Linked DNA regions of Homo sapiens: region 1 is linked to region 2. Evidence: fine-mapped expression QTL. Tissue or cell type: whole blood. Region 2 holds a variant in brackets; the other region holds the start of a gene. All regions are shown on one strand. Distances are between the middles of the regions.

Region 1 (4,401 bases), 35 kb before region 2:
TTGGAGATGTTTTAACTTAGGAAATACAACCATATTTTTGGATGAGCAGGGTATACAGTGGCCTAAAGCTAGAGAATCCAAATGGAAGGTTAAAACTGGATTCTAGTACAAATAGGTTAAAACTAGATTTGACTAAACCTACCTCTCCATCCAACTGAATGTGAACCTGTTTTTGTTTGTTTTATTTTTTCATTTTTATTTATTTTTTGTTTTTGAGACAGAGTTTCGCTCTGTCGCCCAGGCTGGAGTGCAGTTTCGGCTCACTGCAACCTCCACCTCCCGGGTTCAAGCGATTCTCCTGCCTCAGCTTCCCAAAGAGCTGGAACTACAGGCGTGTGCCACCATGCCCAGCTAATTTTTGTATTTTTGGTAGAGACGGGGTTTCACCAGTTGGCCAGGATGGTCTCCATCTCTTGACCTCTTGATCCGCCTGCCTCAGCCTCCCAAAGTGCTGGGATTACAGGCGTGAGCCCCACCGCGCCCAGCCTGTTTTATTTTTTAACCAGCTGAGTCCGGCAAGAATTCCTTGCCATTCTGCGATAATGTAATGGCCTCTTGAGAGTCCTTTACAGAAACACAGTTTAGATGTACATAACATACTAAGAAGGAAACCATTTAACTTGACAATACCACACCCAGATAATTCAGATAACTAATCGAATTTTTCATCGGAATTATTTGGTTTGGCCAAGTTAATTAGGTAACAAATACTTTTCTTTTCTTTTCTTTTTTTTTTTTTTTTTGATACGTAGTCTTGCTCTGTCGCCCAGGCCGGAGCGCAGTGGTATGATCTCAGCTCACTGCACCTGGGCCTCCCGGCTTCAACTGAGTCTCCTGCCTCAGCCGCCTGAGTAGCTGGGACTACAGGCACGCCACCACGCCCGGCTAATTTTTGTATTGTTAGTAGAGACTGGGTTTCGCCATGTTGGGCAGGCTGGTCTTGAACTCCTGACCTCAGGTGATCCAGCTGCCACGGCCTCCCAAATTGCTGGGATTACAGGCGTGAGCCACAGCGCCAGGCCTTTTTTTTTTTCTTTCTTATACATTGTTTACACTCCTCACTTACTCCTGATTCTTAACAGTTGCCACAACCTTTCTTCATTTAAAATCTAACTCAGTTCAATCAGGAAGGTCACTTACCTTGAAAGTCTTCCTTCTTTAGAGCTGGGGTGCATGGTGTTCTTGTTGGCAGAGTAGAAATGAGATATCAAGGAAAAAGAAACTGTAACACAACTGGGAACCCTTAACTCATTGTAAGAACTGCCTCCAAATCAACTTCCTCAAAAACTAAAGAACTCTTCGGGAGAGAGAGACTGGCTGATAAACAATCTAAGGGGAAAACTTTTAAAGATTGTAACACTAAAAATAATTCCGTAAAACTACAATGCAAGTCTACTCAACAAAACTTTAAAAATATAATTTTATTTTTCTTTCAAGAGATCATGGGAAAATCTACTATTTTCGTTTAAAATATATAACTTCTATTTGTTACTATATTTGGATTTGAGCTACTACTATTCTGGATTTGTTCCCATGTATCTGTGGAACCAGGCAGCTAATTAATCTTTACTCAGCATCTCTGGTATTTCTTGAATGAAAATGGAATGGATTGGTGGAATTAATGGCTAGATGTTTAGAAGACACTACTTACTTTGTTATTTTCTCTGTATAATGATGAAAGCCTACAACTATACAGAGACATAAACGAGCCAGGGTGACAGGTTGGGAAAGATGAAGAGGGAGGAGGAAAGGATAGGCTTGTAGCCCTCATCCGGTCAAATTCCCAACTTTGAGCTTCACTTTATTGTAAAATTAGAGGCTAAAACTATTTAACGCTTCCAAAACTTTTTGATTCAACAAATGCCAATTAGTTACTAACATAATTAATCAGTGTATCCTGATTTTTAAAAGATATTTTCCTTTGTGATTTAAAAGAAACATGGGAGTTGGAGTTGCAGCGTCAGTCCTGAAGGACTGACCTCGGGAGGCCAGGTAGGAACTGATAAACTGGCAACAAAATCACATGTTTTCAACTGAATATACTGATATTCAAGCGTCCAGAAAAACAATTTCGAGCCTACGTTCACAAGTTTGCCAGAAAGCCCTATTATTGACACAGCTGCGGATCTCAGACATCTGAGTTAGTCAGCACCATTCTGCTGGAGGGGATTAAGACTGGACGCTTCGAGCGGAGTTGGGAATGTTATCATCTGAGGAAACTAAAAGGCGCCAGCAGTAGGACTTTCTCCAAGGTCTCTGACAAAATATGTTGCGGGAAAAGTCAACCCGCCCCAAATTCCCCCGTGTGGCCCTAACTCGAGGCTCTGGCTCCTCGCGCCGGCAAGCTGAGGAAGAGACGGTCCCCTGCGATTTAGATACAAACGCGCGCGTGCAGGGAAGGCCATCCCAGGGCAGACACTGCCACCTCCGCCGCTTCCGACGCCCGCGCTCGCGGGAGAGCCTAGCGCCGCACGGGAACCTCCCGACCACCGCCGCAGCGCGGATGGGCGTCCCCGGGAGCCAATGGACGCGCCGGGAGGCGGGGCAGGGAGGCCGAGGGGGCGGGATTTCCCGCACGGCCGCTCGGCGCCTGGAGAAGGCTGTGCGGGCGGGGACGGCTGCAGCCCTTGCCGGAGAGGGCGGGCCGGGGTCAGCTGCGGCGGGCGGGCCGGCGCGGGGAGCTGTGGGCGGCAGCTGCGTCTCCTGCCACCGCCCTCCCTCCGCCACGATGCCGGGGATCGACAAGCTGCCCATCGAGGAGACGCTGGAGGACAGCCCGCAGGTGAGGCGCGGGAGCTGGTGGGCGACGAGGGAGAGCCCAGCTGGCCGACCCCAGGTCTGGCGCCTCCGCGGCTCCCGCAGGTGCCCGCCCCGGCCCAGGTGGGGGCCGCCGCCGCCCTAGGTCACCGCCCGTCGCAGGCCGCGCCCGGAGTTGTGGAGGCTGGGCCCGCCGCCCAAGGCCCGCGTGGGCCTGCTCGGCTGGGCCGAGGGCCGCAGGCGGAGACCGAGCCGCTGGTGCTCGTGGGCCGGGCGGTCACGTACGCGCGCGGGTCCTTTTTATTTGACGAAAGGCGCCGTTTTTATCGCGGTGATGTGAGGTGCCAAATCTCGATCCTGGAATTTTCTCCCTGAGAACCTCTTCAGAAAAATTGCAGAAGGGAGAGAAACCCCGATAGTCTTATTTAATGATTTCCGAGGCTCAGCAAGCTAAGGAAGGAAATGGATCGTTTTTCTTTGGGAGAGGCTGTAAGGTTGTGTGTGGAGCCCTAATGGCAAAGCCCGTGACGGGTCCCGGAGCCCAAGACCGCTCTCCCCGCCGAATGTGCCCGTGTCGCGGCCGTGACTGTGGTCGCTGTCACTCGAGCTGTGCACGGCGAGGGATGGACGGTGCCTTCGCCGCTCCGCGACTGCTGCGCTGCTCCCTGCAGACTTGGCCTTAATAAACTCATCAAAATAAAAGCCCTGTGTTCTGTGCGTCGGAATGATGCTGATGTGGTTGCTCTAGCTTAAGACAGTTTTGGAAAATGTAACCATTTAATATGTTTTCAGTACTGCAGAATGAAAGCAGCTATATTTTTTAAAATGTTGGCAGGGGCTGTAACTTGCATAGGGAAAACTTCATCTCTAAGCCGTTTTACACGATAATTTAAACGGTTTAAGACGGTGTTGCTGGTTGGACACTATTTAGAATGAAACATTTCTGAATTGTTGCTGATTTAGAAATGCAGTTGCACCATTTCGTGTGTCTTTACAGTTGAACATGGCCCCCAAAGAAGAAAAGCAGAAGAGGTCTAGATCTCCTTTTCCTGGATGGCACTTCTGCCATGGATTTTGTGCCAATGTTAATTGCCAAGTTGAAATGGGGCTCTGATTGTAGAATTGATTTGTTCTTTTTTATTCTGAAAGTTATCTTCACAGGCCAGTTGCCTGCTGCTAATGTACTCTTAACAGCTGATAGTGACAAAAAGAGAAACTCACATTTGGTTTATCTTGACTGCCAGTATACTCGGTTCAATTTTTTTCTTGATGATTTCTCCATATAAAGTTATAAACTGTATTTGTTTCAGATGATTTGCAAAAAGTTTGTGGAATTGGTCAGGTGTACTTTGTCATTTTACTTTTTATTATGTAAGATTCAACAGGTTGCCTTACCTTTCTTCTCTTACTTGGCTTTTTTTTTTAATAGCCCATAAAGACTATAAACGGCTCAGAATGGATTGCACACTGCCCTGGAAATGACTTGTGAGGCAGAGATAAACTCTTGACTCATCTAATGTCTTGAGGTTTTTGCCAGATTAGTTTACAACTTAAGAATTGTGGTTTTTTTTTTTCTTTACAAGCATGCATCATACTAGTGTCCGTTTTACAATATATTTGTTTGTTTTTTGAGATGGGGATCTT
Region 2 (4,401 bases):
CTGTTGTAGTTAAGTCTATGGCCATCTCCAAAAAGTTGTCATTGAACATTTTATGTAACTTAAAAGAATTAACACAATTCTTTTTGTAATTTTTTTAACACAGTTCTTTTTGACTTTGTAAAATGTGTTAATGACTAATAAAACAAATGTAATATTCAACAACCTTTTTCTGCTTGTTAATTCAAACCAAATATGACATTACTTGTTTCTGCATTACAAGTCTGTTAAAATAATTGGCTTTAATATATTAAAATATTTATATTTTTAGAACTTAGCATATGAGTTTGTCACAAGTGCTGCTGTAATGACTTGTAAGATCTCATGTTTGCTTCTGATGTTTTCTGTGGCAGTTTCCATTACCTTGTGTAGTTTTGTATGCTACACACCAGGAAAATAAGCGCCTTTTTGGATTTGTTCTTCGGACATCAAGCGGGAGAAGTGAAAGTAATCTGTCATCAGTCTGCTATATATTTGAGTCAAACAATGAGGGGGAAAAGGTACATGGCTTTTCAGAATATCTCTGTCATAACCACTTACTAATTGATTCTTACTAAGATTTAATAATAATTAAATTCTTACAAATTAAATTAGTTAGTAATTACTGATTGAATTCTTTACAATTTATACAAATTTATGAGGCACATGTGAATTTTGTTACATGTATAGAATGTACAGTAAGCAAGTCAGGGTATTTAGGGTGTCCATCATCCAAGTACAATACATTTTTGTGAAGTATAGTCACCCTACTCTGCTGTCAGATATTAAATATATTCTTTCTATCGTAATTTATGGTTGTACCCTTTAATCAGCTTTTCTTCATCCTCCCCCTTTCCTCATCACTCAGCCTTCCCAGTCTCTGTTGTCTGTCATTCCACACTCTGCCTCCACGTGATCAATTTTTTGGCTCCCACATACAAGTGAGAACATGTGATATTTGTCTTTTTGTGCCTGGCTTATTTCACGTAAGATAATGACTTCTAGTTCCATCCACGTTGTTGTGAATGACATGATTTCATTCTTTTTATGGCTGAATAGTACTCCATTGTGTATATGTACCACATTTTCTTTATTCATTTATCTGTTAATGAACATTTAGATTGACTTAATATCTTTGCTATTGTGAATAGTACTACAGTAAACATGTGAGTGCAGGTATCCTTTTGATACAGATTTCTTTAATTTTGGGTAGATACCCAGTAGTGGGATTGTTGGATCGAATGGTAGTTCTATTTTTAGTTTTTGTTGTTGTTGTTGTTTTTGAGACGGAGTTTCACTCTGTCGCCCAGGCTGGAATGCAGTGGTGCGATCTTGGCTCACTGCAACCTCTGCCTCCTGGGTTCACGCCATTCTCCTGCCTCAGCCTCCCGAGTAGCTGGGATTACAGGTGCCTGCCACCATGCCCGGCTAATTTTTTGTATTTTTAGTAGAGACGGGGTTTCACCGTGTTAGCCAGGATAGTCTTGATCTCCTGACCTCGTGATCTGCCTGCCTCAGCCTCCCAAAGTGCTGGGATTACAGGCGTGAGCCACCATACCCGGTCTATTTTTAGTTTTTTGAGAGATCTCCATACTGTTTTCCATAGTGGTTGTACTAGTTTATGTTCCCACCAACAGTGTATGAGTTCCCCTTTTTTCTGCATTTCACCA[A/G]CATCTGCTATTTTTTGTCTTTTTAGTGATAGCCATTCTGACTAGGGTAAGAATGGCTCATTGTCATTTTGATTTGCATTTCTCTAATGATTAGTAATGTCGAGCATCTTTTCATATACCTGTTGGCTGTTTTTGTGTCCTTTAAGAAATGCATATTCATATCCTCTGCATACTTTTAAGTGGGATTATTTGATTTTTTCCCTGTTGAGTTCGTTGTATATTCTGGATATTAGTCCCCAGTTGGATGAACAGTTTGCAAATAATTTCTCCCATTCAACAGGTTGTCTGTTTACTCTGTTATTTCTTTGGCTATGCAGACACTTTTTAGTTTAAGTCCCATTTGTTTATTTTTATTGCCTATACTTTTGAGGTCTTAGGCATAAAATCTTTGCCGAGACCAATGTGCAGGAGAGTTTTCCCTTCATTTTCTTCTAGTGTTTTTTTTTTCTATGGAAAATAACCTTTTTTTTTTTTTTTTTTTTTTTTTGAGACAGACTCTTGCTCTGTTGCCCAGGCTGGAGTGCAGTGGCACAATCTTGGCTCACCGTAACCTCCACCTCCTGGATTAAAGTGATTTTCCTGCCTCAGCTCCCAAGTAGCTGGGACTACAGTTGTGTGCCACCATGCCCGGCTAATTTTTTTAGTAGAGACAGGATTTCACCATGTTGGCCAGGCTGGTCTTGAACTCCTGACCTCAAGTGATCCACCTGCCTTGGCCTCCCAAAGTGCTGGGATTACAGGCATGAGCTGCCACACCCAGCTGGAAAAAGAACCTTTAATAGAACAATTATTGAGAATATCGTACTAACAAAGTTTCTCAAGAGACTAATTAGAGCTAAAATGGTGAAAGTAGGATGATCTTTGTTTTTCGTTTTTTGTGGGTACAAGGGGTGTGTGTGTGTGTGTGTGTGTGTGTGTGTGTGTATGCATTTTTTTTTTTTTTTCCAGATGGAGTCTTGCTGTGTCACCTGGGCTGGAGTGCAATGGCGCGATCTTGGCTCATTGCAACCTCCGCCCCCTCGGGTTTAAGCGATTCTCCTGCCTCAGCCTCCTGAGTAGCTGGGTCTATAGGCATGCGCCACCACGCCCAGCTAATTTTGTATTTTTAGTAGAGACAGGGTTTCTCCATGTTGGTCAGGCTGGTCTCAAACTCTCGACCTCAGATGATCCGCCTGCCTCGGCCTCCCAAAGTGCTGGGATTACAGGTGTGAGCCACCTCGCCCAGCCAGGTGTATATATTTATGCAGTACATGAAATATTTTGCTACACTTATGCAATGCGTAATAACCACATCATGGAAAATGGAGTATTCCTTCCCTTAAGCATTTATCCTTTGTATTAGAAACAATCCAATTATACTCTTTTAGTTATTTTTAAATGTACAATTATTATTGACCGTAGTCCCCCGTTCTATCAAATACCAGGTTTTATTCATTCTATTTTTTTTTTTTAATCATTAACCATCCTCCCACCCCCCATCCCCACACTACCCTTCTCAGCCTCTGGTAACCACCCTTCTGTTCTCTGGCTCCATGAGTTCAATTGTTTTGATTTTTAGATCCCACAGATAAGTGAAAACATGCAATATTTGTCTTTCTGTGCCTGGCTTATTTTGCTTAACATAATGACCTCCATGTTCCATATATCTTATTGCAAATGACAGAATCTCATTCTTTTTTATGGCTGAATAGTACTCCATTGTATGTAAGTACCACATTTTCTTTATCCATTTTCTTTATCCATGTATCATCCATTCAAATGACAGAATCTCATTCTTTTTTTCTGGCTGAATAGTACTCCATTGTGTGTGTGTGTACATTTTCTTTATCCATTCATCTGTTGTTTTTTTTTTTTTTCCATTCATCTGTTGATGGACACTTAGGTGGCTTCCAAGTTTTAACTATTGTGAACCGAGCTGCAGCAAACATGGGAGTGCAGATGTCTCTTCAATATACTGATTTCCTTTTTTTAGGTATATACCCAGCAGTGGGATTGCTGGATCATATGGTAGCTCTATTTTTAGTTTTTTGAGGAACCTCCAGACTTTTCTCCATAGTGGTTATACTAATTTACATTCCCACCAACAGTGTACAAGGGTTCCCTTTTCTCCACATGCTTCCCAGCATTTGTTATTGCCTTTTTGCTATAAGCCATTTTAACTGGGGTGAGATGATACATTGTAGTTTTGATTTGCATTTCTCTGATGATCAGTGATGTTGAGGACCTTTTCATATGCCTGTTTGCCATTTGTATGTCTTCTTTTGAAAAATGTCTATTCAAATATTTTGCCCAGTTTTAAATCAGATTAAGGTTTTTCCTATAGAGTTGTTTGAGCTCTTTGTATATTCTGGTTATTAATCCCTTGTCAGATGAGTAGTTTACAAATATTTTCTCCCATTCTGTGGCTTGTTTCTTCACTTTGTTGATTGTTTCCTTTGCAGTGCAGAAACTTTTTAACTTGATGAGATCCCATTTGTCCATTTTTGCTTTAGTTGCCTGTGCTTGTGGGGTATTACTCAAGAAATTTTTGCCCAGACTGATGTCCTGGAGAGTTTCCCCAATATTTTCTTGTAGTAGTTTCATAGTTCAAGGTCTTAGATTTAAGGCTTTAATCCATTTTAATTATATTTAAAAAAATTTAAAAAAAAATAAAAAAAATAAAAAAAAATTTTTTTAAAAAATATTTTTGTATATGGTGAGAGAGAGGGGTCTAGTTTTATTCTTCTACATATGGATATCCAGTTTTCCCGGCACC

The links.
Region 1: APPL1 starts here. The variant in region 2 is fine-mapped to the expression of APPL1 in whole blood (INTERVAL, PIP 0.98).

Annotation. Positions count from the first base shown.
Region 1 is chr3:57,225,156-57,229,556 of GRCh38, forward strand. It overlaps APPL1 (adaptor protein, phosphotyrosine interacting with PH domain and leucine zipper 1), which reads left to right and starts at 2,574. Exons shown (of 22, transcript NM_012096.3): 1 at 2,574-2,782. The coding sequence starts at 2,729. It also overlaps a transcript of HESX1 not described here. RefSeq lists a silencer at 2,372-3,031.
Region 2 is chr3:57,260,278-57,264,678 of GRCh38, forward strand. It overlaps APPL1 (adaptor protein, phosphotyrosine interacting with PH domain and leucine zipper 1), which reads left to right. Exons shown (of 22, transcript NM_012096.3): 19 at 351-497. Among named protein-coding and RNA genes, the nearest start is that of ASB14, 30 kb to the right of the region's middle. The variant A/G (reference allele first, on the strand shown) is at 1,647.